Linked DNA regions of Homo sapiens: region 1 is linked to region 2. Evidence: fine-mapped expression QTL. A gene starts in region 2. The other region holds a variant in brackets. All regions are shown on one strand. Distances are between the middles of the regions. Region 1 overlaps ABCC12 (ATP binding cassette subfamily C member 12). Region 2 holds the start of ABCC12 (ATP binding cassette subfamily C member 12).

What was found. PIP is the estimated chance that this variant, and not a neighbour inherited with it, causes the effect.
Region 1: its variant is fine-mapped to the expression of ABCC12 in testis (GTEx, PIP above 0.99).

The regions. Positions count from the first base shown.
Region 1 is chr16:48,084,823-48,101,350 of GRCh38, forward strand. ABCC12 (ATP binding cassette subfamily C member 12) reads right to left here. Exons shown (of 31, transcript NM_001393797.1): 23 at 16,050-16,187; 24 at 11,924-12,080; 25 at 6,298-6,387; 26 at 3,723-3,912; 27 at 3,104-3,263; 28 at 1,919-1,997; 29 at 771-884. Among named protein-coding and RNA genes, the nearest start is that of ABCC12, 63 kb to the right of the region's middle. RefSeq lists an enhancer at 16,072-16,528. The variant C/T (reference allele first, on the strand shown) is at 7,491.
Region 2 is chr16:48,147,883-48,164,410 of GRCh38, forward strand. It overlaps ABCC12 (ATP binding cassette subfamily C member 12), which reads right to left and starts at 8,111. Exons shown (of 31, transcript NM_001393797.1): 1 at 7,959-8,111; 2 at 5,734-6,002. RefSeq lists an enhancer at 10,095-11,294.

The DNA of each region.
Region 1 (16,528 bases), 63 kb before region 2:
AGGTGGGGGTATTATTCCGCTGATCACAGGACGGATTTGATTTAGCAAATCAGAGCACTTGAACTTAACCCCTGACTCTGCTTGACTGGCCAAGTTACTTAACTTCCCCGAGGCTCTGTTCCCTCGTAGGTGAAAGGGGGCTATGCCTTATTGATGAGCTGGATATGGAGACTACACTTAAACCACTTAGCAGCATGCAGTGCCACGGCAGGCATCAGATCCACGCCGGCCCCTCTCCCCTGACATTAGCACATCTAGAGAATACACACAATGGGTCACATCTTTGATGAGGCTTCAGAGACTGGCATTACTAAAGCAACAGCAATCCCTTCCTGGAAATCAGTAAGTAAGGGTGGCTAAGTTACAAAGAAAAATAAGTATAAATTCTACAATTCCCATATCCTAGCATTCTGATGGCCCTCTTGAGCATCCTGGGGACAGTGTATCCAGATTCAGAATTGTTCAGAGACAATGGGAGAAAGTTGGGAGACAGATTTTTCAAACTCAAACCACTTAGGCAAGCAGAGTGAAAATCTAAGCGAGACCTCCCCAGGGGAAGCCTGGGAGGGGAAGGTGCTCTTGCTGTAAATGGCTGTTACTTTTCAATTTTTATCCCTCACAACTTTGTCTTAAGAAAAAGTGATCGGTTTTTAAATGGCTCAATTGCTGTCTCTTTGCTGAAAGACATACACGTGGCTCTGCCTCCTGGATTGAGTGGCGCTGCGGGAAATATCCAAAATTTGACCAATCCATTTTCCGTGTTTTCTTACCTTTGAATTACGGAGAAGAGCTCGGGCCACACAAAGCAGCTGACGTTCCCCTACTGAGAAGTTTTCTCCATTTTCTGTGACTTCTGCCTGTAATTTTTCTGGGAGTTTCATTATCTACAAAACACAAAAAATGCCACATTTGTGCTGATGATCTATAAAATTGTCCTATGCTGTCTGTATTGATTGCCCCCTTCTCTTGCATTCATCAGCTTGCTTTATTTTACTGTGGCAAAGAAAGTGCAAAACAACAATCATTTCAATATTGCAAACAGGCACCAGGGAAAGACCAGGGAGTAGACGGACATTAATAATTTAAAATCACAGTATGACTCATAGAACCCCATAGACAATTCACCAAAAGAACAAATGATGCAGATGCAGTCCCAGAGAGCAAACAAACAAGTGGAAACAGCTTTCTGGATTGCTGTTTCCAGGGACCAAATAGAGATGGGATGGGAGAGTTTTCTGGACATTAAGGAAGGGTAAGACAGGGTCTGACTTATCCAGAGTGACAAGCCAAAGTGGCCTTGGAAGATGCTCATGTCGGTACCAAGTCCTGGAAAAATATCACGTTGGGCTGCAGAGGTGTCCATGCTCACCTGCTGACCCCAGCTGGGGCTGTAGCTCTTATAGGACAGGGTTCCCTCTCACAGATGGTTCGGTCCTCTCCAACCAGCCATACTTGCCATTCCCAGAACATTCCACACCCTTCTGTTTTCTGTGGCTTGTCTGTTCTGATAGCAAATGAGGCCACTGGCAGAGTAGCAGGGCCTTCCATCTGCTCTACAGCCAGACAGGCTTGAGTTCAAGTCTCCATCCTGCTACTCACTAGCCTGGGCATGTTACTTCCCTGAGCTTTAATTTCTTCATCTCTAAAATTAGGGGTAAGAGTACCAACCTCAGAGCATTGTAGTAAGGACCAAGTGAGATGATACATGTAGTGCTCTTGACTGGATCATTGTAGAGCCCTATTGTTGCTTTTAATAGGAAAGAATAACTAAGGATTATGTTCTACTGACTTACGTGGTGTCTACAAATAAACCTGGCTAAGTGCTGGCCTAGGTGCTTGTCAAATTTAAACATAGGCCAGGAATCTAGGGCAGTGGTGCTGGGAAACAAACTCCTCCTCAACAGCCCCAGAGACCTACTGTGTCTCTCATGAATGTTCTCTCCAGAACCTGCCAGAGCATCTCATCGGTGTGACTCTCAAAGGGATCCAAGTTGTACCTGCAATGAAGGAGAGGAGAGGACAGGGAGCCAGATTTCCAAGGACGAGAGGATGGATGCGGAGCAGGTTTTCTGTAGCATGTGGAGGAGGGTAGGAGGTGGCATGTGATGACCTCGTGCTCCAAGAATAGTGCTCAGTACAGGACAGTGGTCCACAAAATATGGACCTCAGGCCACGAGACCAAGGGCCCACAACTCTGCAATGGAGCAGAGACCACTGAGGCAGGCAATGACAGGTGGAACCCTGCCGAGAGGCAGCTCTGAGCAAGGTGCTCAGAAAGACACACCTGGGCCTCTCAGCAGCCCCGAGTAGCAGAGTGGGTTTGAACTGATAAAAATTCTTGGCAGAGAAAGAGGGAGAGTGAGCAACCCAAATCTGCCACTCCATGTATCGGCAGCTCCTAGGGCCTCACAGGGTGCTGAGCAGCTCAGACGCAGAATGTAAATCTACTGTTTCAAGAGGCAGAATGCATTTTTCAAACAATGAACTCTAAATACAGTAAATACAGTTACCCTACTTCATCTGGTGCTGTATGGGAGAAATGTTCCTCTCATCACAGAGAGAGCTAACTGAGAAACTGCCTTTCCCCTTGTGCCTTGATATCAGATCTGGAGCCCCACAGAAGCTGCAGCCCTACTGTTCTTGTGCTTGAAATAGCTTCTGTTCACTTAGGTGTGGAAATAAATGAATGCACTTTGCAATGGATAGCTGTATACACGGGGTAACTATTTATTTTATTGTGCAAACTGGGACACTTTTCAGAGTGGCCATTGTTAAACCTGATGGGATACTGGGACACAGGCATAAACTAGGGCTGTCCAGAGCCACTGGAATATCTGCTCAGTGTATGAATGAATACAGAAGCATCTTGCTCATTAATAATGTGTTTATAAAACACAAGTAATGCTCAGACCCCGGGCCCTGGCTCCTCCCAAGGCTGGATGCAGAAACAGGGACCAGCAGTGCTTGTGAGCCCCCCTGGGATACTGCTTCCCTCAGACAGAACAGCTCCAGGCCAGCCATGCCCTGGGGACATCACAAAGTTCTTGGTCAGTCTGATTTCACTCTCCAAAAATAGAAATGCACAATGATTAAAAACAGCTACCTTACTGTACCTACAAACAGGACAGGATCCTGTGGGATCACAGTCAGCTTGGTTCTGAGGTCTTCCAAGCTGAGAATGCAGATATCCACCTCATCAATAAAGATTGTGCCACTGGCTGGCTCCACCAGACGAAACAAAGCCATTCCTAACGATGACTTTCCTGGGAACCATAAAAGTAAGAACAACAAATCAAACATCAGTTTGTGCTTCCATCATATCCAAGCATTTAATCAGTGGGATTTTTAATGCAATGCAAATGTCTCCGTAAGGATGACAGTGTAGACAGAAAGTGTCCTCACCAGGGTGGGGGTGGAGGGATGGGCTACCCTGACACAGTTAACCTGCCCATCCTTGCAGGGGCCCTTAGCACACAACTCATCTCTGGAGCCCTGTTGCACTAGGATGATTGTCATTTAATTAATTCAAAAACTGATGTGTTTGCTTCCATCTCTACACACCCATTCAACCTGAAATCCTAATTTACAGTAAAGAGATTTGAGGGAAATAACAGCCAATCTGACACACATACACATCACTCTCTGGTGTGACTTAACTAGGACATCCAGTGGAAATCCAAAGAAAACAACCCAAAAGAAACAAAAGCAGAGCTTGTCCTCACCGGAACCTGTTCTTCCAACAATCCCGACTGTCTGCCCACTTTGTATGTTCAAGTTCAGGCTGTCGAGAACAAGGGGGGTGTTGTCTCTGTATCTCATCTGATAGTCTCTGAAGGTGATCTCCCCACGGCTGGGCCAGTCCTTGGGACAGGTCCCCACTTTGAGGGGATGAGTGCATTCAGGAACACAGGTCTGTAAAGGAGAATAACCAATGACCAGTGACTAGCCATTTGTTTTTTCACTTATTTAACTAATTCATTCATTGATTCACACAGTTTCAGGTACTGCTATTCATGGTGGTGAAATAAACCAATAATGACCCTTAATTCTAGAAACTCACATTCCAGTGGGGATGTCAGATAATAAACAAGAAAAAAAATTAAAAATGAAGACAATAAAACAGAATATTGCAATAGGATACAGAATGTGATTTGTGTGTTGGGAAAGGGGGGTAGGAGAGTAAAAGTACTTGAGGTTTCAGGAAGGCACCTATGTGACATTGGACCTGAGGGCTGGAGTGCTGGGAGGATGTCAGCTACAAGAGAATCAAGTCCAGAGCCCTCCAGGTTGGGGGAATAGCTAGCACAAAGGCCCTGGGGCCAGAATGAGCTTGGGCAATTTGAGGGACGGAAAGAAAAGTCATGTGGCTGGAGCTTAGCGAATAGAGGGATGGATGACTTAGAGGAATACACAAGGGGAAGCTCATACTGGGCCTGTGGGCCTGGGAAAATGTCAGAAGTGTAGCCCTGAAGCTGTGTGACAAGGCCAGACATAGCCTTGAGTTTGCAGAACTCAACCAGATATAATTTCAAAATCTGCAAGAATCATCATTATACTAGAAGAAGAAAGATGATAAGAATGCAGGATGTCAAGTTCAGAGGTCTTTAGACATACATGAAAAAAAAAACATTTAAGTCTCCTAAGAGTCCAAGAAATGCAAGGTCTAATTAAGGAGTAGAGCAGCTTGGCTTCATCACAAGAGCAGCCCCTCCTCTTAAGTCACCTCTGTGTAAACAGCTGGAAATAGGGATCCCGTGTGCCCCATCAGGATGGCGGACCAGCCCAAATCTCTGGTCAATAAGCAACCTCATTTAGCTGAGAAAATACCTGTATTGTTAAGGACTGAGTATTTTTAACCCCTAGAAGATTTAGAATTAGGAATAAAAATATTTTAGAGAAATGAAACTGTAACAGTAATATTTTTAGTTTAAGAAATCTGCACACTTGGTGTTTCAAGTATTCACAATATATTAACAGAACTTGGGCTTGTGACTCTAATTTAAAATGCATAATTGAATAATTGATTTAAACACGATTTTAAGTTAAAAGTTTACTGTTTATAGCATTGATACTGTCATGAAAACTTAAAGCTTACTATGTTTATAAGTTTAATTAATTAAATTTGTACAAACTCAAGAAGGTTTGTTGTTAAATCAGATCATTGAGGTACTTAAAAAGAAATTGAATGTATTAAATTTTAAAATGCAGTTTAAAATGTTTTAAAATCTTTAAGTTTGTAAATGGAGCCAAACACTCTTCAAAGGCACCTAAATGTGATTGCTAGAATTGGCTAGACTTCTTTTAAAAGAATAGCAAGATTTGTAAGTTGGATATAAAAGCTTTTAAAGAAGAGTTAGACTGAGCTTCTATTTTTCAACTTATGACTTCAATCAAATAATAATTTTTAACTTAAAAAAATTTTAGAGTCAGGGTCTAGCTCTGTTGCACAGGCTGGAGTGCAATGGCATCATCACAGCTTACTGCAGCCTCAAACTCCTGGGCTCAAGTGACCCTACCTCCTTAACCTTCTCAGTAGCTAGGACTATAGGTGCATGCCACCACACGTGGCAAATTTGAACTTTTTTTTTTTTTTTTTTTTTTGGTAGAGACAGGGTCTCACTGTGCTGCACAGGCTGGTCTCAAACTCCTGGCTTCAAGCATTCCTCCTGCCTCGGTCTCCAAAAGTGTTGAGATTACAGGTGTGAGCCACTGAGCCTGGCAAAATATTAATTTTTAGAAACCAAAGTAAGCCACTGAATTGTATTTTTCTGTGTATCAAAACAGCCCTTAAGGAAACCTTGTTAAAAAGAACCTCACATTCAACAACAAGAACTTCAGAATGTATTGTAAATACAGGTTTTAAGAAGAGGGATGACTCGTCCGATTTGGGGTTTTTTGTCGTTGCTATTGTTTTTGATTTTTGAGATGGAGTTTTACTCTTGTTGTCCTGGCTGGAGGGCAATGGCACGATCTCGATTCACTGAAACCTCCGCCTCCTGGGCTCTAGTCTCCCGAGTAGCTGGGATTACCACCGCTCGCCACCATGCCTGGCTAATTTTTGTATTTTTAGTGGAGACAGGGTTTCACCATGTTGGCCAGGCTGGTCTCAAACTCTTGACCTCAGGTGATCTGCCCGCCTCGGCCTCCCAAAGTGCTGGGATTATAGGCGTAAGCCACCACGCCCGGCCCGATTTCCGTTTTTTAAAAAGACCCCTTTCGCATCTAAAAAGATCCAGTATTTGCCCAAGTCCTGCCAAAATTAACTTGTCCCTCCTCTCTGATGCACTAATTTCTTACCGAAATGTATTCCCTGAGCAGCTCCACGGAGGTGAATTTGGCTTGCGTCTCTGTTCCCGTTCGCACACACACTTGGAGCAGTCCGCTCAGCTGTTGAAAAGGAGCGAGCAGCCGCAGTTAGAGCCCCTTCCTCCTTCGGGTTCTGCAGCTCCCCGTTCAGGAGGCAGTCCTAGTGAATGATCCCTCCCCTGCCTAGCGCAAGACAGCACAAACAGGAGGCCTGCCTTCCCAGCCAAGCGCCCAGAAGTAAAGATATTCCTGTTCGGGTGTTTTGCCTTTAAACACTTCCTTTGTATTTAGAAACAAATGGTAATTACATTTTTCCCTGGCACTCCAGATGGTGAGAATCATCTCCCCACAGAACCACTTGATCACACGCCTCTTTGAGTGGTGGGAATTCTCCCTGGGAGCTGCAGAACTGCTGGCTATCGGCCCCTTGCTGCCACCTGGCAGGGTCTTGCATCTCAGAGCAGCCCTCCCCTAGCCCCTTGCTCAAAAAACAACTGAAAACCACATCACCATGAGACCAGAAAACCATCAAGCCTGTCTTCTTGTTATAGTAATGAGAAAGTCAAGGCTCAGACTGGGGCATGTGGCTTGCTAAGGTCACCCACCTTAGGCCTGGATCTCCCAAAAGCCAACCCCAAGATTTGACTGCAAGAAGTATATTAGGGCAGGTTGAATGGTGTCCCTACCCCTAAAAGATGTGTCCATTTCCTAATCCCTGGAACCTGCGAATGCTCTCTCATTTGGAGAGAGGATCTTTGCAGGTGTTAGCAAGGATCTTGATATCATCCTGGATCACCTGGGTGGGTCCTAAGTCCAGTGATAAGTGTCATTATAAGAGACAGAGGAGAAGTCACCGAGGAGAAGGGGACGTGAAGGCAGAGGCAGAGACTGGAGTGATGCAGCTACAAGACAAGAGATGCCAGGGATGGCCAGCAGCCACAGAAGCTGGAAGAGAGAAGAAAGATTCTCCCGAGCCTCCGGAGGGAAGCTGGCCCTGCCAACACCTTGAGTGCGGGCATCTGACTCCACAACAGTGAAAGAAAACCTTTCTCTTGTTTGAAGCCTGCAAGCATGTAATTTGTCACAGCAGCCTTCACAAACAAACATAGGCGGTGAACCCAGATTGTACCAGGAGGGGATGGAGGAGTGAGCAGGGGAAGAGAGGCCACCCATACCAGGTGTGT[C/T]TGTGAGATGTTACCGCTGTGGGCAACTGAGAGTCCGGCTGGTCTTGGAGCTCTGGGACACTGAATGGAGCACACCTCGGAACTGTCCCGTGCTGGGGCAAGGAAGCCAGGGTACACAGGGCTACAGAGCCACTAACTCCCTCAGTCATTGCTGCACTTGCTTCTGGGTGTGAGAATGCCCGGAACCTCCAGCCTGCCCTGGAAGGGTGGGGCAGCCACAGCATTTGTCACCAAGTGGGCTAGAGGCAGGGCCATCTCATGCATTAGCGAACTTCATTGACTGAGCAGTAGCCATGGGCCAGGTACTGGTTGGGGTGCCGGTTTCCAGAGTTGAAGGTTATAGACAAGATCCCTGCACTCAAGCAGCTTCCATTCTAGTGGACTGGCAGGGATGGTGCACAAGGCCACTGCGGGAGTGACAAGAATGTCCCAAAAGCAGGTTGATGTGGGAGAGGGGCCGGGGCTGGAGAGTTACCTTAGATAGGGGTTTCCAGAGGACTGTGCGAGCTGAGGCATTTATGATAAGAAGTCCACCAGTCAAACTCAGGATAAGAATGCTCTAGTAAGAAGCAAGCGGTCTTAGCAGCAAAGAGGCAGGGGGTGCGAGCAGGCGCGTGACGTGGAGAACGCTATGGGTGCAGACCCTCTGAGAGCCCCTCAGCAGGCCTCCCTGCTTAATACAGTTCAGCAGTTTCCACTTCTTTAGAGCAATGGCTCTCAACCTGCCCTACAGAGGACATTTGGCCATGTCTAGAGACAGATTGGGTTGTCACAACCTGGCGGGAGGGACGTAATACCAGCGTCTCATGAGCAGAGCCAGGGAGGCTGCTGAACATCCTACCACGCACAGAACAGCCCCTCACCAGAAGGATTATCCAGCCCCAAAGCCCACAGTGCCATGGTTGAGAAACCCAGTCTTGGAATACAGGTAATACCCCGCCCCTGGCTTACAAAGCTCTATGTATTCTACTCTGCCGGCACCTCATACCACCTTGCTCAAGCCATGTGGGCTTCTCAGATCCTCAAACATGCCAGGATCATGCCTACCGCTGAGCCTTTCCCTGAGGCACTCTTTCTTCCAGTCTTCCTTGGCTGGTTCTTTATCCTTCAGGTCTCAGCTTGGAAGCCACCTCCCAGCAGAGGCCTCCTCTGGCTGTTGTATGAAATGCTGCTTCCCCTTCCGACAGCCACATTCCTCCACTCGTTGTCTTCCTAACATTTAAACACCTTCTGAGCTTCTCATCTATTTACTTGGCCCTCATTTATTCCAGCTGCCCACTAGAATGAGGGCAGGACTTGTCCAGACTGCTGACTGCTGATTCCACAGCCACTAGCACAGTTCCTGGCTCATGGTGGGTGCTCAGGGGATATCTGGCAAATGAATGAATGAACCCTGCCCTTGAGAAGGGCATATACATCTTTTGCTAAATGCAAGAGTATCAGCTCCCAAGGCCACGGCAGCCCTCCCAGGTTTAGGATGCCCACAAAGGCACAGTGCTGGCCCCAGGAAGTGCTTATTCTCCTACGTGATGTGATATGATGTCACTTTGCATTCACTTTCTGCTCTGTGGGATTTCATGCCAATTTCTCATCCATCTGGGGAGTCTTCTCTAATCTCAAGTGGAGTGCTGTCATTTTGATTCTGTGTTCTCCAAAGGGGGCTAATGCTCAATGAAGCCACAGAGCCAGCTGGAGAACAAGTGTTCCCATAGATCTCAATGCTGTGCACAACCTTACAGGAATGTTTGAAAACAATCTCATGGAAAGCTGATAATATCGCCCAAAAGCATGACCTTAGTTGGGGAAAGCTGTTTTACTTGGACCAATTAAGGGAAACTGTTCAACATCATCTGTTTGATATTTTACTAGGCAACAACAAATGAAGACATCTATCAATACAGGAAACTGGTTACCCAAGGAAAATTCATTTTTCCCCACTTAAGAGAGAGTACAGAGAATACATTTTTGTTTCCTTTCTTCCCAAAATACAATTTAAATTATATCAGAGAAATTTTCCATAAAGAATAGACCTTTAACAGTAAGGGGATTGAGAAGAGATAGCAGTGAATAAGCTACAAATTTCTGCAAGATGGAAAGAGGACGAAAGCCTTTTGATAAAATGGAAGCAGAGCATGCTAGAGTTTAAAGAGCAGAACCCAGAGAGGCTCCAGGTGTGAGAAGGGGGCCCACAAAGAGGCTGGCTGATAGGCTCTGTATATAGACAACCACTCCTGTCTGGTTCACTCACTCCTCTTCCCCTCTTCTTTCTCCTAACCAGAGTTAGTTGGACCCTTTATCCCTAGGCATGGGAGCACACATGCACATGGACACACACACATAAACATGATTTTCTCTAAAGAAATTGAATTAACTGCCTAGGGATAAATTGGGCTCTCTGAATAGTCCCCTGCATAAAAACTCCTTTAAGTCTTGCATTTGGGTACCTAAAAGCCAGCTCCCTGGCTGCTTTCCTGAAGTGAAGCCAGCCTATGGAAAAGCCCCACCACCCACCTACCTGCAGTCATAAAATTTCCCATCAGGAGACACCTAGCAAGGTGAAACAAAGGCAGAGGAAACTCTGAAAACCCAACCCAGTTCCCCGGAGTTAAATACTAATGGGTCAGGAGACAGATGGACAAAACCAATGGCATGAAAGAGCAAGAACGAGAGAAACAAAAAGAAAAACTACCTCTGGAAGAAACAGATAGATGCAAGTCAAAGAAGGGAGGAGAGTTTAGGAGGGGAAAAAAAGACTCTAACTGATATGGTTTGGCTTTGTCCCCACACAAATCATCTTGAATTGTAGCTCCCATAATTCCCACGTGTTCTGGGAGGGACCCAGTGGGTTGGGAGATAATTGAATCGTGGGGGCAGTTTCCCCCATACTGTTCTCATGGTGGTAAATAAGTCTCACGAGAGCTGATGATTTTATGAGGGGTTTCCCCTTTCACTTGGCTCTCATTCTCTCTTGTCTGCCACCAAGTAAGACGTGCCTTTCACCTTCCACCATGATTATGAGGCCTCCCCAGCCACGTGGAACTGTGAGTCCATTAAACTCCTTTTTCTTTAAAAATGACCCAGTCTCAGGTATGTCTTTATCAGCAGTGTGAGAACTAACACACTAATTAATATTAATATCCTCAGAGAGATTCAAAAATATGCTGCATCCATGTAAAAAATGATTCTTTTAAAAACTCAGAGAATAAGAGCTTGTGGAAATTAAATATGTGAATATATGATTGCCAAATTTAAAATTCAAGGAATAGCTGAATGGCAAAGCTAACAAAAATTCCCAAGATAAAAAGACAAGAACATGGAAACTGAGAGAAAAGAAAAAGAAACATAGAGAATTGATGCAAGAAATTCAATATTCAACTGACATGAATACAGTAAGAAAAAAAAAAAGAAAGAAAAAGAGGACATTGTCAAAATGAAGGAGAAAAAGGAGAAATGTTTCCAAGCTGATGAGAAATTGGACTTTAATCTTAAAGAACTCACAGCATCAAACAGAACACATGAATAAAGACCCACATTCAGATACATTATCCCAGAGTTTCAGAGCACTAAGAATAAGGACTATGTCAAAAAAGTTTCCAAAGATAACAAGATTCAAACAAACATGAGGACCAGGTGGCCTGCATTCAAATCCTGGCCCTCACATGTGACAGCTGTTATGATCTTGGGACAAGTCTTTCTGTGGCTCAGTTTCTTCATCTGCAAAATGGGGACCACAGCAGTATTAGAGGGTTGTTGTGGGGAGGAAATGAATTAATTTAGTTAAAAGACAGGGCCTGAAGCCAATCACAATCAATGCCGTATGTTCACCTATTATTGTTATTCAAAAGAAAAAAAAGCAACCAAGAAGAGAAGTCAGTAATTATTTGTCATCAATATTATGACTGTCTCCCCAGCATTCATTTCACTCCCTCCACTGTGGAGTAGCTATGTGACTTAAAGTTGGAAATGGGTGTAACTCCAACCCTAGCCTAACCAATGATCCGTATCCCATCAAACCACTAATTAGTTTTGGGATGCCTAAATTAATCCAATAATAGTAATGCTCCAGGCTTTTGCCTCCATGGCTGGGGCAGGAAATGCTTTCCTCCAATAACAGTAAAGCTCCAGGCTTCTGCCTCCGTGGCTGGGCCAGGAAATGCTTTCTTTCTGCTTCCTCTTTGCTGTAGACCCCAGAGGCTGCTGGTCACCTATGAGGAAAGTCATCACAGGGCATGGGCAAAGCTCAGAGACATGATCCCACTGTGCCTGAAGTCCACACAACCATCCTACTTTTTAATGATGTGAGCCACTAAGCTCCCTTTCTCATTTAAACCCATTCGAGTTGGGGTTTTTGTTGTGTCCATCCAAAAGCACCCTCGCTGATGTATTACAGGCCGGAGCCTCCAGACTAAGCCCAACTTTGCACCAGGCATTACCTGGATGATGTATGACAATGACAGGCCTTTGGATGAAGTACTGATGGAGGAGAAACTCAGGGTCACCAACAAGGCCACAGTGAAGGTAAGGATGTTCATGAGGACATCCATTCTCAGCGCAAACCACCTGAGAGCACAGTTAAAGTAGAGGAGGTGACTGGAGTTTTCGTCGTTTAGCGTCTTAAACCTACAGTCAAGAAAATCAGAAAAAGCAGGAGATCAGGTTGTGCTGTAGACTTAAGGTTAGGGTGACTGGAGAAATGAGGCCAAGGAATTTTTAATCAAGGGAACACACTCTCACATAGCAAACTCTTACAAAAATGAACATATATTCATGCTCTTAAAAATCTGCCACTCTAGACATCTTTGATTTGCACATATTTTGGGAAATCTCATGTGGCAATAGAGTAGGGTGCTAAGTGGCTCTTTCTGTCTTTCCCAGAACTGGCAGCTAGAATCTACAGCTGAGAAGAAGAGGTGCCGAGTGCTTCACATTCTGACTCCAAAGGATCCCTATCGTGGAGTCAGTCACCCTCAAAGGCTTTGTGGAATTGACAATTGGCCCCCTTGATCTATAGAAAGGGTGGGGGTGGGTTGTGGAGGAGGTCACCTTTAGGGAAATCAATGTTTGTGACTGTAGAGGAGGGAAGGGAGGGTGCATGTTAGGTTTCCCTCCCTGAATCAGAGAAAGAAGATTGAAGACAATTGCTTATAAAGCTGGGAGCTTCTTCAAGGACAGGAAGCTGACACCTTGCATCCCTGCTGCACGTCCACGGAGCCAAAGGGCTTGGAGAGGGGGGAAGAAGCACAGAGCGGAGTGACAGGGAGATGACACAGCCAGGGGATGGGGGCAAGACCCACCCCCTGGAGTTCCGCATTCCCCAGATGTATGCAAGGTGGATCCCATCAGCTCCACAGTTCCTAGGGCTGAGATAGCAGAAGGAAGATGACCTTGGAGGCTGCAGTCTTGATGTGACGGTCCCTGGCATGAAGCAAAGGGGCCTCCACATCAGAGGAGTGCAGTGTGAGGGCTGCCAGGCAGAACTCACAGGAAGACCCAGCAACTCCTACCGATGCAGCAATGCTGGCAGAACTCCTGGGGTTCTGGCCCTACTGGGGCCTCCAAGCTGCTGTCCCACATCTGCACAGTGCATTGCAGCAGCAGGAAAGGATAGCAGAAAGGAGAGAATGGCCCAGAGGTGCCAGTCACCCAAGGATGTGTTCTTCCTGCTGTCCCCTCCCCAGTTCCCCCACATGGGCATCAGAGAGCCAGGCCTGGAGAAAAGGAAGAGGGTGTTTAAAAGCACAGAGCAGGTGCTTCTCAATTGCAAGCCTGCCCCACCTGACACACACACACACACACACACACACACACACACACACACACACACACAGCATAGCCTTGCCACACCAAGCCTCTGGGGGAAAGAGACCTGTGGCTTGAATATATTCAAGATTGAAATTTTCACCGCACTGAGCTGACCATTAACCAAAAGAGACATCAGATTCAATTGCCACTGTGGCTTCCCTGATCTAGTGGGGAAGGGCTTCATGAGAACAGCTGGTAGAAACTACTGGGGGAAAAATGAAAACCCTTCCACGCTTAAAGCCCTAAGGAGGTACAATTCCTCCCCTGGCATAGCTGTGAATGGCCTCAGGCACTGCTGCTCCATGCTGTCCTGGAAGGCCTCCCAGAGTTCTGCCTGGAAGCCCCTCTGACCAGCCGCCCTGGGCTCTGCTGCCCTCTCCTCCTCTCTGTTTCAACTCTAACTTATTTTCCCCAGAGCTTAGTCAAAATATTCTTCAAAACACAGTGCTGTTTCTATCATGTAGCTATACAGCATACAAATTCAACTGACAGCCTCCATGACCTGGAAGTCACCTGTGGTCTTATCCGTGTGGTTGGTTAGATTGCATAGAAACAAAATCACTAGCTGGGATCAAATTGGAATTTGACCTCTAATCTTTTTACATTTTTTAAGCTGTAGCATTTTTGTCTGGTGGCAAATGCAATACACGTCAGAAACCCAAGCCCTTTGGAAAGAAACTATTAAAAGAAGGGAACCCCCATCAGTCATTCTTGGCTCCCTATAGGATTCTCTCAGAAATCTTGGAGTAGAAGCTGTGGGAAGACAAAGTTTGCATGTGTGTTTGTTGTGGGTGAGTAGACTAATGGCTCCATGGGCTTTCCTCATGGCCAGGACTTTGGAAGTGTCTATGTGTGAGGCAGGACTCTTGACAAACGATGTTCAGGTCAAACTAGGGTCCGGACTAGGTGCTGACTGAACTAAAGACAAGGTGTGATGTCAAGTCTACTCTGAGATCCTGGGTGGTAAAATGGAGGGGGCGTGAGAGAGAGAATTAGAGGCAATTCTAAATTTAATGCAATTCCAGGCTGGTTGCAGTGGCTCACTATAATCCCCGCACTCTTGGAGGCCAAGGCAGGTGGATCACTTGAGGTCAGGAGTTTGAGACCAGCCTGGCCAACATGGTGAAATGCTGTCTCTACTAAAAATACAAAAATTAGCTGGGCCCCAGTTACTTGGGAGGCTGAGGCAAGAGAATCGCTTGAACCCAGGAGATAGAAGTTGCAATGAGCCGAGATGATGCCATTGCACTCCAGCCTGGGTGACAGAGCAAGACTCTGTCTCAAAAAATAAAAATAAAAATAAATAAATTTAATGCAATTCCAAACTTAGAATGCATTCGATGCACCCTTTAGAACTGCATCTAATTCTTTCTCTCTGAAGGGTGTGTTGGCATTTTAAGGAAGGAAAAGACAGAAAGTGGGAAAGGCTGCTATGGATTCACCAAACTCCATTTTCTTTTCCTCCTTTGGACACAGCTGGACTACATTTCCCAGCCTCCCTTGCGTTAGGTGAGCCCATGTGACTCCAATGTGGCCAAGGAATGTGCAGAAATCTTGGGACACTTCGCTAGGGTTGGACCATAAAATCCCCCTGGGTCCTCCTTCCTGGCCTCTCGCCTTGTCTTCCGGCCTAACACAGAAGATCCGAGAGAATACCTCAGGGCCTTGGGACAGAAGAGCCCCAGATAGAAACAGACTATGCCTGAGTGTGGAGTACAATCACCTACTGTTGCCCCATGGACCTTCACTAAATTGTGACATCAGGAAAAATAAAAATTTATTGCATGATCTCCCTAAGATTTGGGCTTATTGTTACTGCAGTGAGCCTACTGTGATTTATCCTTTTTCTTTTTTTTTTTTTTTGAGACAGAGTCTCACTCTGTTGCCCAGGCTAGAGAGCAGTAGCACAATCTCAGCTCACTGTAACCTCTGCCTCCCAGGTTCAAGTGATTCTCCTGCCTCAGCCTCCCAAGTAGCTGACATTACAGGTGCCCACCACCACACCCAGCTAATTTTTGTATTTTTAGTAGAGATGGGGTTTCGTCATGTTGGCCAGGCTGGTCTCAAACTCCTGACCTCACATGATCCACCCACCTCGGCCTTCCAAAGTGCTGGAATTACAGGCGTGAGCCACCGCGCCCAGTCTGATTTATACATTTTATGTCATATTTTAGAAGTTTGAAGCTGGAAGATGCCAGAGAGATTTACTAATGTAGTCCCCATATTTTAAAAAGAAGAAAATGCTAAGTGAAATGAAAGGTGGCCTTTAGAAATTATTTTTACAAGACTCGTGTAATAACATGAAACAGGCTATTTCAAACTGTTAAATAAATTTAAGAAATGATTATAAATAAGAAGAAAAAGAAGACGCCATGAATAGAAAAAAAGAACAAAAAATGGAAGGAAACATGAAAAAATTAATAGGTTTGGGTTTGGGGAGGGGCTGTAAGTGATTTTTTTCTTCTTTTTTCTTCTTTTCCCTATCTTCCTGAATCAAACACATTTTTACTTTTAGAATGAAAAATAGAACAAATGAGGTTGTCATTGAACAAGCTCCCCTCATTCACATCTTCTGGGGCCCAAGATGCTGGAAGAGAGGCTGTGAGGCCAAGTGTCTTCAAGGACTCCTCCTGATTCTTCCAGCTCTTTGTCTGTGATCAGTCCCCAGCAGCCCAGACTTCCCTCCTCCTGTGCACTCCCCATCGGAGTCAGGCATGAAGCATGGGGGCCTGGGGCAGGGCCCCACATGGGACTCACTAGGTGATGCAGCTCTCCTTCTTGCCATAGGCGTGAATGATGCCCAGGCCCTGCATGGAGGAGGTGATGTGGGTGAACCAGGGTGACCGGCTGACATTCTCCACCTTCTTGAGCTCCTGGACTCCTCTGTGGAAAATGCTGGAAGAAAATTGAAAGGGGCCAGGTGGGCCACAAAGTGAGGTCTCATCAGGCTTGCCCTCACACATACAGAGCCAACTAGGCACTCAGCACAGTGCTTAAGTCAGAGACGGTGCCATCTAACTGGGGATGAAGAGCAGCCTGCCATTCTGCAGTGGTGCCTGCCCCAGGTGTGGGAATGGCGGAGGCGTGAGAACCATGAGTCAGCGGCACCTTCGTTTGGCCACGGTGCTGTGTTTCTCATATCAGGAAAGTCTCGCTCCACAAGGCGTGATTCTAGTCTTCTAAAACCAAAATTTCTCATACAGCACAGCCCCTAAGTATCAGCCAACCACTTTTTG
Region 2 (16,528 bases):
TGTTTTAGAGCTAGTAGTTGATGAAAAGCTCTTTAATCATTGTTAATGAATTTAAAGTTTTTGTTGTTATTGTGGTTGTTGTGGAGACGGAGTCTCACTCTGTCGCCCAGGTGGGAATGCAGTGGTGCGATCTTGGCTAACTGCAACCTCTGCCTCCCGGGTTCAAGCAATTATCCAGCCTCAGCCTACTGAGTAGCCGGGACTAGAGGTGCACGCCACTGCGTCTGGCTAATTTTTGTATTTTTAGTAGAGACAGGGTTTTGCCATATTGGCCAGGTTGATATCGAACTCCTGACCTCAGGTAATCCACCTGTCTCAGCCTCCCAAAGTGCTGGGATTACAGGCGTGAGTCACCAAAAAAAAAAAAAAAATTGAGACAGGATCTCACTCTGTCGCCAGGCTGGAGTGCAGTGGCACCATCTCAGCTCATCATAACCTCTGCCTCCTGGGCTCAAGTGATCCTCCCTCCTCAGCTTCCCAAGTAGCAGGGACTACAGGCGTGCACCACCATGTCCAGCTAATTTTTGTATTTCTAGTAGAGACGAGGTCTTGCCATGTTGCCCAGGCTGGTCTCAAACTCCTGGGCTCAAGCAATCTGCCTGCTTCAGCCTCCCAAAAGTGCTGGGATTACAGGCATGAGCTACTGTGCCCAGTGCAGTTAATGAATATTAATGACATAAATATCATAGACCCAGCTGTAGATTCCTAATTCAATGAGAGTATTAGCAGCTACCAGAGACTCCCTAAACCTCTGGCCAAACTGCATACTCTACTCTCCACCTTCTATTTGTACCATTGAATACTGCACTCCAGCCATGTGGAATATCTTACTACTCCCTGGACAAACTGTTTATTCCTCCTGCTTTTTAGTTTTTGTATTTACTACTGGCACAACCTGGAACCATCTAGTATCCCTTTCTTCACTTGACCAATTTCTGCTCAGCCTTCAAGGCTCAGTTCAAACATTTCCTTTTCTAAGAAAACTTTCCTACATACTTTTTTATTTCCCCAAACAAACTGTGGGCTTCTTGTTTGTCTTGTTTGCAGCTATATTTCCAATACCTAGCATAGTCCCTGGTACATCGGAAATGTTTAATACGTATTTGTTGAATGAATGAATAATAGTAAGTATGAGAAACAACTAAGATGCAAATCCTTTCCCCAGAAAGTGAAAAATAAGCACACAATAACACACAGTAAAATATAAATTATTTTGAAATTAAGTATGGGATGATATAAAAATAACAAATAAAGTATAAATTATAACATTGTGTTAGCCCTAGAAAAAATACTTTTTAAAAAGGGTTAAAGCTAAGAAGTCAGTCAAGGAAATAAAATGAAACACTAAATAGTAGATTAACCAAAAAAAAAAAAAAAAAAAGGTAGGCAAGGAGGGACAGAAGAATAAAACACAAAAGGAATAAATAGAAGACAAATATTAATAGCAAGCCAATAGACTTAAACACAACCATATCAACAATTACATTAAATATAAATGGAGTAAATATTTCAATTAAAAAACAAAGATTGTCAGACTGAATATAAAAAGAAGATCCAATGATATGCTTCCTATGACAAGTTTATTTTAAATATAAACACACAAATAAGCTAAAAGTAGCAGGGTGAAAAAGGAATACCATGTTAACAGTACAAAGTACATACAGAGATATGTATTTATGATCTTATGATAGGGAATAATTTCTTAAAGCAATTTTCTTTAAAAAGTCCTAAAGCAAAATCTTGATAAATTCTAGTACACTGAAATTACAGAAGACATAATTTGTAAGAGAAGCAACATACTGGCACAGATGTGACCCATTTAACTGTAAAGAATTAGTATGCAGAATTTATAAAGAATTCTCAATACATTAATAACAGAAGGACAAACAATTAATTAGAGGAGCCAGCAAAAGGCAATTGACAGATGATCCAAATACACACAAAAATATGCTCAATCTCTGAGTATCAGGAAAATATGAATTACAACCACAATCACAATAACAGCCATTTCTCATTCTTCAAATAGACATTATTTAAAAGTCTAAAAATTGCAAGTCTTGGCATATGTATGGAGCACTGCAGCTCTTAAGCACCCCTGGTGGGAATATAAATTGTATAACTAATTTTTAAAGCAATTTGGCATTATCTGGTCAAGTTAAAGATTCTTACTAACATAGGCAGCAATTATCCTTCTTAATTATATATATGCCCTGGAGAAAGCCTGCCTGTTCAAGCAGTCAGATACAGAGTGGCCACTAATTTTGCAGGCTGTCTTCCACTCTCCTGCGAATTTCCTCCCTGCCCCTGCTAGCCTCTCTTCTCTCATACTGGTGTCAACACTGAAGTTCAATCTAGGAAAACACAAGGAAACAATCCACAGAGGATGGAATCTCATGCAAAAAATATTTTTGTGGCCCCTCTACAGGAATATTTATAGTGGCTCTGTTTATAATATCTTAAACATACATGAATAGGAAAATGGATGAACAAATTGTATAATATGAGTTTGGCATATTACTATTCAACAGTAAAACTGAATCAACTAAGTCCACATATCAAACTATGTGTATAGCTCATATGATAAATTGAGAGGAGGGGAAAAAGCTGCAGAAAAATACACACACTTTGATACCATTTATATAAAGTTTGCAAACTTGCAAAATATACAATACACAAATTCATGTGCTTGCAATATATAATAATATATTTTATTTAATAATGACTATATTTGTAGTAAGATTTCATTTCTCCAAGTACTTGAATCTCCTTATATTGGAGAATCGTATTAGAACTAAGATCTGGGCACTAGGTAAATTCTTTGTTATTAGGATGTTGTTGCTTCTAGGCCCTCTCAGCTGACAAAGCAAGGAAATATATGTATGCATATTAACTAGTGCATAAACACATATCTATAAATATTTCTATATGTAACCGTCCATATCTATTTTAAGCTAACAGTGAGTTCATACTGACTCTCCAACTTGAATCCATTACCATAATTATCACAATTCTAGCCTCCTCCCCTTGCTTATTTGTAAGCTCCAATTCTAAAACTGAGAAGCCTGGCTCTCACCATCTACCATGTGTTTACTTAACTGTGTACATGTATAGCAGTATCAGAATTGTCAACCCATAGCCCTGTGAGAAACAACTTAATCAACTAGAATCCAATGCTTCCAAGAGTATAGTACCATATGGAAAAGGAAAAAAAAATAGCAACTTTGCAGTGGAGAAGCCTGGCACACATCACCTCAGCCAGGTAATCAAGGTCAACATCAGCAGTGATAAGTCCTGTTGATAACGTGTACCCTTAATATGATGGGGCAAAAAGGGCACTTTACCTCTGAGGTCCTCCGCCCAAAACCTCATAACGCCGGTCTAATCATGAGAAAAACATCAGACGAATCCCAATTGAGGGACAGTCTACAAAATACCTGACTGGTACTCCTCAAAACTGTCAAGGTCATCAAAGACAAGGAGAGCCTGAGACAGTGACACAGCCAAGGGGCACCTAAGGAGACCTGACAACTACCTGTGAAGAGGCATCTTGGATGAGATCCTGGAACCAAAAAAGGATGTTAGATAAAAACAAAGGAAATCTAGTAAAGTATAAATATTAGTTAACAATGTAGCAATATTGTGCATTAATTACAACACATATACCATACTAACATGAGATGTTATTAATGTTATTAGCAAGGGTAGCTGGATATGGGGTACTGGAGAACTCTGTACTATCTTTGCAATTTTTTTTGTAAACCAAAACCATTCTTAAAAAATAAAGTTTATTTTTACAGAATGAATGGGAACACTCTACACCAAATTCAAGATGATGGTTACCTCTAGGGGTGGGGAAATAAGATCTGGAAGTTACTCAGGTTTCCTCCCACATTGCTGTAATATCTGATCATAAGTTTAAGAATCTAAAGCCGAAAGCAGGCTGTCTGTGCTCAGTGTCACTGAGTAATGCAGACCTGTGCTACAGAAGTTCTGAGAAAGTAGAGGTCAATACGGTCTGGGAGGAGGACGGGGTTAGGGAGGACTTTTGTGGGAGGTGAGACTAGAAGGATTTGAGAAAAAGCCCAAACAGAGATTTTTGCCTGAGCCTTGGTTTGTGTGGTGTGCCCGTGTCATGGGGCTCTATGCACCAGACTTAGGTAAGAGTCGAGACAAGGCTTGGCATGACCGTGAAAGACTTCAGATTCAAAACCTTCCTTGGATCCTTTTCCACAAGACTTCCATTTGTTTGTTTACCAGAAAGCCCTTCAGAATTTTCTGTACCCAAGGCACCCTCCACTCAGAACAGCCTCCTGCTGACCTCTCTGCATTTACTTCAGGAGACAGAGGGAGGCTATCCACTGCAGAGATGCTGGGGCTGAAAAGTTTAAAAATTGGCCTCTCATTCTTGCATAGGTCCTTGGCTCCCTGCATGAACAGAACCCAGCCCTGGTCTGGATCGGAAGCAAGAAAAGAAGCCTGAACCCAAGTACGGCCTTTGGGCACGGTCTTTCTACCACATGTCCACCCGCTCTGCAACTGCCGGGCACAGCGGACAGTCAAGCTGTGGTCCATGATCAACAACCTACGACCTCCCAGTGGCCGCTGGGCCACTGCCCTGCCCTTGGTAACCTGAGCAAAGCAGAGGTAGGAAAGCAGGTTAGCTGATGAAGAAGAAAGAGCTCACGGCAAGTTCTGAAACCCAGCTGAAATTATTTGGGGGAGAATCATAGAATCCAAGACATGGCAAACCAGCCTCTCAGGGAGAATTTCCCTCTGGCCCACCAGATCGGGCCTCAACATGCTTTGGTGACAGACCCCAGTCACTTCTTCTCAAGACGGCCCGCATGCAGTATTCCTGCAGGAAATGCATACCCTGCGTCTAGTCTTGAGAAAATACCAGATGAACCCAAAGGAGCTTTCTACAGAACAAGTGGCCTGTGCTCTTCAAAAACGTCAATTGCACGAAAGACAAAGAAAAGTGAGGAAACATCCCAGATTAAAGGATACAGAAGAGATGTGACAGCTAAAAGCAACACACAAGCCTGGATTGGATGCTTGACCAGAAGAAAATTAATTTGCTATAAAGAACATTATTGGCCCAAGTCAAAGGTCAAACTGTGCACTTGACTCTCAAGTCACCCGCCTGACCCTCTTCCAAGTGTACTTTACTTTCTTTCATCCCTGCTCTAAAACTTTTTAATAAATTTTCACTCCTGCTCTAAAAAAATAAAAATAAGTAAATGAAATGTGTAAAAGAACAGTATTGGAACATTGGAGAAATCTAAATATGGACTATAGATTCTGCAATAATATTTTATCAAAGATAAATTTCCTGATTTTGATATTAATGCTAAAGTAAATGTGGCAAAAATGTCACTGCAAATCTCAGTGAAGGGTAGTTGGGATCTCTTAGCATTATTTCTGTTACTTTTCTGTAAGTTTGAAATCATTACAAAATAAAAAGTTAAGCATTTTCTAAAGAAATAGCCCTAAAGGGGATGATTTTTTTTTCCTTCTGTGGAACTAAATGCAATTTTTCTGCACACTTCTCAGCTCTCAGGAGCCATGCATCCTCCACTGATGTCCTCTTCATGTGCCCTGTGATATTTGAGGACCATTGTCATTTCCGACAACTCACTCCCAGCCACCCAGTGGCTAGTCCTCTCTCATCCAGGCTAATCTTTCCCAGCCCCTTTGAGAAGGTGGAACTCATTGTCAGTGGAGAACCCTTACCTATAACTTCTATTTTTTGGTTCCCTTTTCTAATGGTAAGGGACCCTGGCAGCAAGATGTCATCAGCTTGTCTTAAGGGCTCCTGAGTCCCAGATGCCAAACACTGGAGGCCAGGCCTCCCTGGCCAGGTTTGAGTAATCAGCGCGCATAGGAAATTGGTGCTAGAAGGTAATTTCCTTGAGTGCTCCCCAGGGCATGTGAAGTTTTGATGATCTGAGGCGGCTTGGAAGCATTGCAGCTGGAATGGCACTTTGCTAAATTTGGCAGCCCTGGGGGGAAAAATGAGACTTTTTTTAAAATCAGGAAGCCTGCTTTGGCTAACGTCTCTATCCCCGTCTGTCACGCCATCCTCTGCCAGGAGTGAGGAGCTGCCTGGGGTGAGAAATCTGTTTGCTGGCAATCACAGGATGGGGTCTGAGGGGTACACAGCTGATGAGAGCTGGGAGGAGGCAGTGCCAACCGGGCCAGGGTCCCTGCAGCCATCATGGCTCTGTTCTTGGCATTGTGTTTTCCATGCAGAGCATCTGAGGGTTGGCAGGAGATGCCAAAAAGTCACTGGTGCACCCCTCTGCTAGCAGGCAGGGGGTTCCTAACCTAACCTCAACAGACTGGACAGGCAGAAGCAGGAAGGCCTCTGTTTAGAGCACAGGACACAAAGACCATGTACAACTTGCAGTTCCATTTTATATGGCCTGCATAGTTTAAACATTTTTTTCCAATTTGTGGAAAACATTTAAAAATGAGGAGATACCACATTAAAAAAAAAATAAGACTGGCTTCTGGCTTTCGTCAAATATCAAGAGCTCTGTATGTTCATGTGGTGACAATCCACTTACGTTGAGCACGGCAGCCCCTCCTGGGCAGGGTATACATGCTTTAGTTTGCCACAATCCCCACCACTCCTTACTGTCTCTGTGACTCTGAGATTTGGGGTCATGTAACATTTATTATTGCATTGGCACTGCTGTCTTCCTTATAGTGTTTCCTGAGGCCTTTTTCTCTATCCTTGTCTCTGCCCCAAGAGAGAACAAAAGATGTCTAGAAGTCATCTCAAGAAGAACCATTTTCCACACCTGCCCACTTTGCTCTGTTATATTTCATTTCTGCCCCTGTCTAGCCCAGAAAATTAACAACTTTATGTTTGAGAACTGGACTCTGGGTCTTCCTTGGTGCTCATGATGGGAGTTCCTCCATCAACCAAAAGCAGGCACACCTTTAGTCATAAAATTTTTCCCAGGTATGAGACTACAGCCCTACTTCTTTCTTAATAAATCCATTGTTAATTTAAAGCCACCAAAGTTATCAATATCTGATGGTCTCCCCCAACTCCCACAGCCCCTTCCTCCAGGGCCTGACTGGCCTCCAGCACAGAGGAGACACTGGGGAGCTCTCCCAGGCCCTGCCTGCACCGCACCTCTCCTGTCTGTCCCCAGGTCCCAGGCACCTGTGGCAGCCAGATCAGAAAGCCCTGTGAGTGATGAGGGACTGGGGTTGGGAGGCAGGGAGAGGCAGAGAGGTGGCAGAGGGAAGTGCATGCAGGGGACAGCACCAAGCTGGGGGTGTGGGAAGGGAAGTGGGGGTGCTTTTGCTCAAGTACCCTCATCTCCCAGAAGGCCTAAAACAGTGGCCAGTGATGGCATCTCCAAAAGAGGTCATCCATCCAGTTACAGACACATTCCGACACGATCAAAGAAGGATGCAGAGCCTGGATTCAGAGCAATTCAAATCTACCCTCCCAGGAAAATAATATATTTAAAAGTTAAAAAAAAAAAAAAAAGAAAGAAAGATGAAAACCTCATATGAGAACTGCAGTAAAGCTTTCCAGGTCTTTTTTTTTGGGGGGGAGGTATAAATCCCATAATTAAATTGTGAACACTACCCTGTATATGTGTTTGTGTTTGTGCATGTGTGGGAAAAGACTTAAAATATTCAATGTAGGCTTTTGTATTTCAGAGATTTTGAAATCGCGTCTTGGCATTTCTGCCTTTTCTTTTATGATAGCGGGGGCTCCAAAAGTGGAAGAGGGGCTGCCTTTCTTCTGGGAGCCTCGTCCCTGCTGCCTCCCACTTGGGCAGCCCCATTCAGTGGTGTCACCTCCCCCAAACCCCCCACCACACACACACACAGCCTGTCCTGAGGATGAGAAACAAAGGCCCTTGGGACTAAATGGTGGCCACTAATTGTTACAGGGAGAAGCTTTACCTGGGCTGGAAATGAAGCTTTACCTGGGCTGAGGATGAGAGGGAGGGGAGGAGGGTCAGCAGTCATGGGGCTCAGAGCCTGGCATCTGCTGCCCAGGACTCCAGGGCCTGCTTCTCCCCAAGGACCTCAGATTCAGTTTCTCTTGTCCCACCCGCCTGAAGTCCTCCTCTCCAACTGCCCCATTCAACTGCCACTCCCACCACACCTGAGAGGGAACTCTGGCGGGCCAACATTCCCTCTGCCCACATTAAAGGGCTCTCCCCTCTTCCAGGATGGCCTGTGGCCGGGTCTGGCTCTTTGGTGACAGTCAGAGCCCATGCATGAAAGCACTGTGCATGGCCAGCCCTTCCCTGGCTGTCACAGCACATCCTTGTAGAAGAGAAGGAGAAAAATCCTCTCTCCAACCGTCATTCTACAGACGAGAAGCCCAAGGAACAGAAGCCTGTCCACGACTGGCGTGGGGCTGAGACCAGCACCCAGGTCCCCTGAGTCCCACTCCAGGCTCCTTCCTGAGAGAATGCATCGAATTTTCTACGCTGTGTTCCTGCAACCGGGAATCAACTTTGGGATCAGGGGAAGGGAAGGGAGGGGAGGGGAGGGCAGGGGTAGGGGAGGGCAGGGGTAGGGGAGGGCAGGGGAGGCGAGGGGAGGGGAGATGAGCCTCATCTTCAAAACAGAAAATCTCATTCATTCATTCCCCATTCATTTAACGAAAAAGAAAAGGGTAATTTGAGCTCAATTTGTCTTGAAATGAACGGAAGGTAAGTCTGAGACCTGCACTAGCAGCTAGCCCTTGCATAGAAAAGTTCCCCTGTGTCACCCTTGGAACCCTGCACATCCCGAGCGCAAGCGTGATTCCCGGGGTCCCTTCTGCGCCTGTCCCAGAACAAGCGCCCGATTTCAGGGGAGCCCAGCCGAAGGGTTCCACAGCGCTCAGCGAGCCGGCTGGGAGGGAGCAAACTCTCTAACTGCAGAAAAAAACAAATCTTGATTCCGCTTTAAGGGTTATTTAAACATCTTAGAGGACCTTCCCAGCCTCACGCACGTGGATTTCATGAGGAACTTGGCCGCTACCTTCTCCTGTCCTGCGCAATGCCGCCCCCTGCTGGCTGCCTTCCGGCCCCGCCGCTTCCTGGAGATGCGAATTCACCGCCTTTGCCCAACCTGAGTTCCCTTCCTACCTAGAGGGAGGTGGAAATGGAGAGGGGCTGTGGGCAGCTGTGTAGGAAAATGGGTCCTCCCAGGAAGGCTCCCCGGCCTGGGGAGTGAGCTAGACCGACAGCAGTTTCCTTACACGTGTCCAAAGTGTTCCATTTAATTTCCGTCCATTCTTCCCTTCATGAATGCAAATCACTGCTAATAATATCACTCGACATTTCTGGAGCCCTTTGTGTATCGCAAAATTCTTCATCCTCTTTATCACTTGATCTTCGCAACAACCCCGGGGGTCTCATAAACACAGCAAAGACTCGCTTCCACAATCTTCCAAACGGAGTCAAGTGCTGTCAAGTTTATGGAGGAAGAATGCCGATCAGTTTTCCTCTATCTCCATGAAAGGCTGGGCGGAGATGGATTTCCACCCAGACAAACAGTATTGGGCGCTACGCAAGAAGATTGGTGGGCCTAGCCGGAAACAGAGTGGAGAATGATGGAGAGGGACTGTCCGGTCTGTATCCAAGGAAGTCCTTAGGAAAAGACCAGCCAAGCTCCTGTTCCAGGCAGAGCGTGGACTCACCCATAGTCAGGGAACTGAGGCCCATCCTGGGTGTACACACAGCTCGCGGGGGGGCGAGATAATCCACTGGAATACAAAAAGAAAAAAAATAGAAATCCTTTTCATATTTCTCCTCTTCCTTTAAAAATTCTATTTTGGCTGTGTGCAGAGGCTCAGGCCTATAATCCCAGTACTGGGGGGCCAAGGCAGGTGGATCACTTGAGCCCAGGCATTCAAGACAAGCCTAGGCAACATGGTGAAACCCCATCTCTACTGAAAATACAAAAATTAGCTGGGCGTGGTGGCATGTGTCTGTAGTCCTAGCTACTTGCGAGGCTGAGGTGGGAGTATGAATTGAGCCAGGGAAGTCAGGACTGCAGTGAGCTGTGATCGTGCCACTGCATTCAGGCCTGGATGATGAGAGTGACTCTGTCTCAAAAAAAAAAATTGTGTACAGTGATATACATGTGTAGGGGAGAAAAAGTGTGATACTTTTCCTCACCAGTCATGTGGGTCATGGCTGACACTCTTGTAACAAAAGGCAGACTAACAAAAGGAAAGCATAACAATTTTATTTCATCAAAGTTTAATGTGACATGTGAGTCTTCAGAAATGAATACCGAAAGGCTCAGGAAGAACTGTCCATTTTTATGCTTAGACTCAATGAGGAATGGACAGTGGTATAGAAATGCGATTGGACAGAAAGTTCTGATTAACTGTAATGGACCGAGGTGATGGGATGGGGACCCAGCAGGGCCTGTCTGTTCAGATTCTTCTTGGCCTCTCTGCACAGCATTTCTTCTTTCTAGGTATGGGGCACGACCCCTCTGGAATGAGGGTCTTAGGACCTACTCTCAGACAAAGTTGGTCAGAGAATTTCTTTACGGCCAGCTCCTGTGCAGAAGGGTGGAGGAAAGTTTGAGTCATAGTTTTAGGTTCTATCGGTGGCTTTGGGGGAAGAATTTCTATGACTCACCTTGGGGAAGGGGAACTCTGGTTTCTATGACTCACCTCATGGGAGAAGAGGTGCACAAGGGGTGCAGGAGGGCAGGAGAAGGTCAGAGAGAACTTGCTTCTGAGGCTGCTTCTGAGGTCATCCAAACTCCATCAGTTCAAAGTACTCAGCCTGCCAAAGTGCCATACTTTGGGGTATTGTTGTCCGAGCCTCAACACATGTCCACCCTGCACATCCTTGTAAATAACTATACATGCATAAATTAGGGGTCTGTGTGCGCACATACCAGCAGTGGTGCTCCATGGCAAGGGAAAATTGGTGCTTGATGGGAAGGAAATTTTCCCAGCTCTGAGGTTCTGTGGGGTCTCTATTCCAAAGTGAGGTTCTCGCCGGGCATGGTGCTTCACACCTGTAATCCCTGAACTTTGGGAGGCTTGGGCAGGCAGATCACCTGAAGCTAGGAGTTCAAGACCAGCCTGGCCAACATGGTTGAAACTCCATCTCTACTAAAAATACAAAAATTAGCCGGGCATGCTGATGCACACCTGTAGTCCCAGCTACTCGGGAGGCTGAGGCAGGAGAATCGCTTGAACCCTGGAGGCAGAAGTTGCAGTGAGCCGAGATTGTATCATTGCATTCCAGCCTGGGCGACAGAGCAGGACTCTGTCTTAACAATGACAACAAAAAAGTGAGGTTCTGTCTGAAAAAAAAAATAGAGAGAGAGGAGTGGGGAGACAAAGACGGAAAGAGACAGATAAGAGAGAAAGAGCAGAAAGACTTGGCCCAAAGGCCCCAAGAAGTGCTCAGAAATCAGTGTGTGCAGTTACATAGAATCAATAGCTCACAGTGGCTAAGAGTAGAAACTCTGGAATCAGATCTGTCCTCAAAATCTCTAAATTTCAATGTCGTCAACTACAAAATGAAAACACTATCCTGAAAGCATTGTAAATTAACTAAGGATTAAAGTGGATCATGGAAGTGAAGCGCTTAAACACAGTGCCTTAAACAAACACTCAATAAATGGTAGCTATTGTTTGTGAATAAGAATTTTAAAATTAGCAGGATCTCAGCAGGGCGCGGTGGCTCACACCTGTAATCCCAGCACTTTGGGAGGCCGAGGGGGGCAGATCACGAGGTCAGGAGATAGAGACCATCCTGGCTAGCACAGTGAAATCCCATCTCTACTAAAAATACAAAAAAATTAGCCAGGGGTGGTGGCGGGTGCCTGTAGTCCCAGCTACTCGGGAGGCTGAGGCAGGAGAATGGCATGAACCCGGAAGGCGGAGCTTGCAGTGAGCCGAGATCGTGCCCCACTGCACTCCAGCCTGGGCAACAGAGCCAGACTCCGTCTCAAAAAAAAAAAAATTAGCAGAATCTCGCTAGAAGTAAGAATTCTACCTCCTGGGTTGCTATTAGAATCTGTCTAGTAGAAATACACTGATGTCTCTGCTAAAAGAAGGGGTTTGGATTTTTCACTTTATTTGCCTAATGAACTAAGGCGAGCGATATAAAAGGACTGTCAAACAAAGCTGATGTCAAGTGATTTTGGAAAGTAATTGGAATTTGCATGGACTTTTAAAACAGTAAGTGGAAGAAATATATGTAAGTAAAGCAATAATAGGATTCGTGAGCCAGAAATACATGCATGCAACAGTCAGAGAACAAGCCCTCTAATAAAGAACAAAAATATTTCACAGCCAGAAAATGTGGGTGCTGTTCTCAGCTCCACCACTTAACAGCTTAAAGACCTGAGCAAGCCCCTTGGCTCAGAGAGCTGATCCTAGGAGTTAAAACCTGCCCCCAACATGAGAAAGAATTCTCAAAGAATCCATTCTCAGAATCAGGAAAACTATGCTAATTGCAAACAAATGAATTTTCCATTTAAATGGTGGTCATAACAATCTTGTAATAAACCTATTTCTTTCTTTGCATGGGCTGTTAAGGAGTTTAGAGCAAAAACTCAGCCATCTCTAGTAACTGTACACAATCTTATGGCATGCACTTATATGCAATTATATGCGAGGAAGTGCTCTGTTAAGTCTAAATCATGAACACACCCCAGATCAGTGAAGGATATTGATATGTGAGGGGAGAAGGAGGTGGGGAGCATTTCAGTGAATGCCACTGAGAGGGACTGAGACCCTCATATCAGAACAGAAGTTTCCAAATCGGTACGGTTCTCTCTAGAGTACAATGCTACCCATTAAGTATCTGGGAACCAAGGATTTGGCAAGAAACACGCTTATCAAGTCAGCAAAGTGTACTCCTCTTTGCTCTGATGAATCACAGTTTTGCACTAATGCTCCTCAGAGATGCCGCACTGGATGGCAAGCTCTGCGTAAGGGGCTGTCAGGCACTAGAAATAGAACTTCCATGAAGGGGCAGCCTATCTGTCCCCCTGCTCTGAGCAGGCCATGCTGGCTGGTTTGGGGGTGAGGCCTTTATCCCCAGCCCTTACTGCTTGCTTCATCCTTCTCGTTTTCTTCCCTCTCCTGTTTTATTTTATTATTTTATTTTATTTTGGGGATGGAGTTTTTCTCTTGTTGCCCAGGCTGGAGGGCAGTGGCTCGATCTCGGCTCACTGCAACCTCCACCTCCCAGGTTCAAGCAATTCTCCTGCCTCAGCTTCCCTAGTATCTGTGATTACAGGCGCATGCCATCACGCCCGGCTAATTTTTGTATTTTTAGTAGAGATGGCTTTTCACCATGTTGGCCAGGCTGGTCTCGACCTCCTGACCTCAGGTGATCCGCCCACCTTGGCCTCCCAAAGTGCTGGGATTACAGGCATGAGCCACTGCGCCCAGCCCCCTCTCCTGTTTTATATTCGAGTTCTAAACCAGCCTATTAAAAGCCAGTGGTGTGGTTGTGGGCAAGGTATCTCCTCCGCCTGGGACACGAGTTCCCTCTAGAAAATCAAAGAGCTGAGTTAAATGCAGGTTCTTAAATTGTTTGTGTGCCATGGACCTCTTTGGCATTCTAGTATATTCTCAGAAAAAGTATTTCTATGCATGAGATAAAGTACATAGGATTGCAAAGATAACCAATTATGCAGAATGTGCTTATGATAATATGTATAAAACACAGCTGAATACTGTAAGGTATATGCTTCTATATTGATGCACTAAGTAATGTGATCTAGCAGAAGTTCTAATGACTATTATAATTTCAAAGCATTGATGCATGTAAGTGATATTTTGAGACATCTGAAACAATTGAAATGAGATTTGAGAATACCGCTGATTTCTATTGGTAACAAAGTCACAGATACTGCTAATACTATCTATTTGTTGCCCCATCAAGGAAAACACCAAATTTCAGTTTGTAAAAATAAAGATGTCATTTTTTTCCCATCCAAATTCATAGATGCCCTGAATCTAGCTAAGAGGTCCATGGACCACAGGCTAAGAACAGCTGGACTGACGACTTCTAAAATTGCTTCTGACTCTGAAGCAGTTGGATTCCACAGAATTTTCTAAATGATGCCGGGGGACAGATTAGGGGACATTTAGGATAATGGGGTGAAATTTTACAATCTTAACAGCTGGCACCAGAGTGAATCAGAGGGTGGGAACCGTTTTTGTTTAGCAACTGCCTTGATCTGTCTCTTGGGGCAGTCAGAGACACCCTAATGACTTGCTTGGCAGGAAAGGGCACCAGAAGGGAGAACTAAACTGCTCTGCATAAAATGTGTCCAAGAATTGGGAGGCGGGGGCAGGGAGAACACAGACAGTAATTAGAGAACCAGAGAGGAAACCAGAGCCAGAGTGGGTAGAATGGTGAGGGACTCCTTAAGAAAGCACATGGTTGATATTCAATTGGAAGTTGTTGACTTGCTGTCAACAATTCTTTTGACCCCACCCTTCATTCAAGTGGTCTACACATACAAAGGAAATAAGGAGAAGTGCTGAATTCTCCTGCTAGATGAATGCAGTGGAGCAAAGGAGAGGATGGATGGCCTAGCGGGATGCTCAGGAAGGCAGAGTTAAAAGAGGTCATGCAAATCAAAGTGCCCGGAAGCACAGGAACTTTGGGAAGCACATTCACATGGGGGCCTGGACCCTTCCTGTCTAGATCATATGGGACACGTGCTCTCAGCTAACCTCTGTGTTCTCAGAGCACGGGCCAGAGACCAGCAGTATCAGCAACATCTGAGCCTTGTTAGAAGGGCAAATTCTTAAGCCCAACCCCAGACCTACTGGATGGAACTATATGAGGTTGGGGTCCAGCAATCTGTGTCTTGCCCTCCAGGCAATTTGGATACTCAAGTTCAAGTTTGAAAACTTCTGCTGTCAGGCGTTATTATTTCCATTATTGCATTCCAGTGTCCCAGTCCACAGAGAGGTGTATGCAGAATTTCTCCCAGCACTCAGCCTTGGGGGACCCGCTCCCAGCCTGGGGATAAGAACACTGCCCCTCACCTTGCACTGGAGAGAGCTTTCCAGAGCCAGAAAATGCTCCCAGCCACGGTGAGCTCCCTGCCCCTCCAGGCAGCCACTCCCTCCTGGGACCTTTCCAGTGACCCAAAGGTCCATGCCTTCTAGGCTGGGGCTGCCCTCTGGAGCCACTTTTCTGAAAGAAGCCCTTCCGGACCGGAAAGACTGAAGTCTGAGTCTTCCCCTCTTTCTGCTGGTGCCTTGCACAGCATGGTGCTCTGGCCACCATAGAGGTTGGTCTCTGAAGACTGCTCATTTACCAGTTTCTCTTACGATATTGTCCAGGGCTGCAGACAGAGGGCAGGGCAGGCAGGGCCAGCGTGACTGTGGCCTCCTTTGCTCTGCACATCAGTTGCTGTCATTGTGGACCACACTGTTACAGGAAAGGAGCTCCAATCCAGACACCAAGAGAGGGCTCTCGGATCTCACGCAAGAATGAATTCAGGGCGAATCCATAGAGTAAAGTGAAAGGAAGTTTATTAAGCAAGTAAAGGGGCCTGGCACGGTGGCTCACGCCTGTAATCCCAGCACTTTGGGAGGTGGAAGCGGGCGGATCACGAGGTCAGGAGAGCAAGACCATCCTGGCCTAACATGGTGAAACCCCGTCTCTACTATAATACAAAAAATTAGCTGGGCGTGGTGGCGGGCGCCTGTAGTCCCAGCTAGTTGGGAGGCTGAGTCAGGGGAGCCGCTTAAACCAGGGGGGCGGGAGCGCGGAGGTTGCAGTGAGACAAGATCGCGCCACTGCACTCCAGCCTGGTGACAGAGCAAGACTCCGTCTCAAAACAAAAAAACAAGTGAAGAAATAAAAGAATGGCTACTCCATAGAGCAGCCCCGAGGGCTGCTGGTTGTCCACTTTTATGGTTATTTCTTGATGATATGCTAAACAAGGGGTGGATTATTCATGCCTCCCCTTTTTAGACCATATAGGATAACTTCCTGACGTTGCCATGGCATTTGTAAACTGTCATGGCGCTGGTGGGAGTGGAGCAGCGAGGACAACCAGAGGTCCCTCTCTTCACCATTTTGGTTTTGGTGGGTTTTGGCCGGCTTCTTTACTGCATCCTTTTTTATCAGCAAGGTCTTTATGACCTGTATCTTGTGCCAACCTCCTATCTCATCCTGTGGCTTAGAATGCCCTAACCATCTGGGAATGCAGCCCCGTAGGTCTCAGCCTTATTTTACCCAGCCCCTATTCAAGATGGAGTTGATCTGGTTCAAATGCCTCTGACAACATCACCCCAACTCATGCCTCTAGAACCTCTAAAAAAATTCCATGACCTCCTCTCCGCCAGTATGGAATTGAAAATAAAAATAATAACAAACCATCAAATAAATATAACAAAGCACAGCAAAGCCCTGCATTCTCTCATTATAATTATTTTAGTATTATTTTTGAAAGACCAAATACCAATTTTTAAATGTTTATCATAAAACATTTCTGAAACCTGAAAAGGTGAAAAGAATTATTAAAAATCAAAGCCTCATAC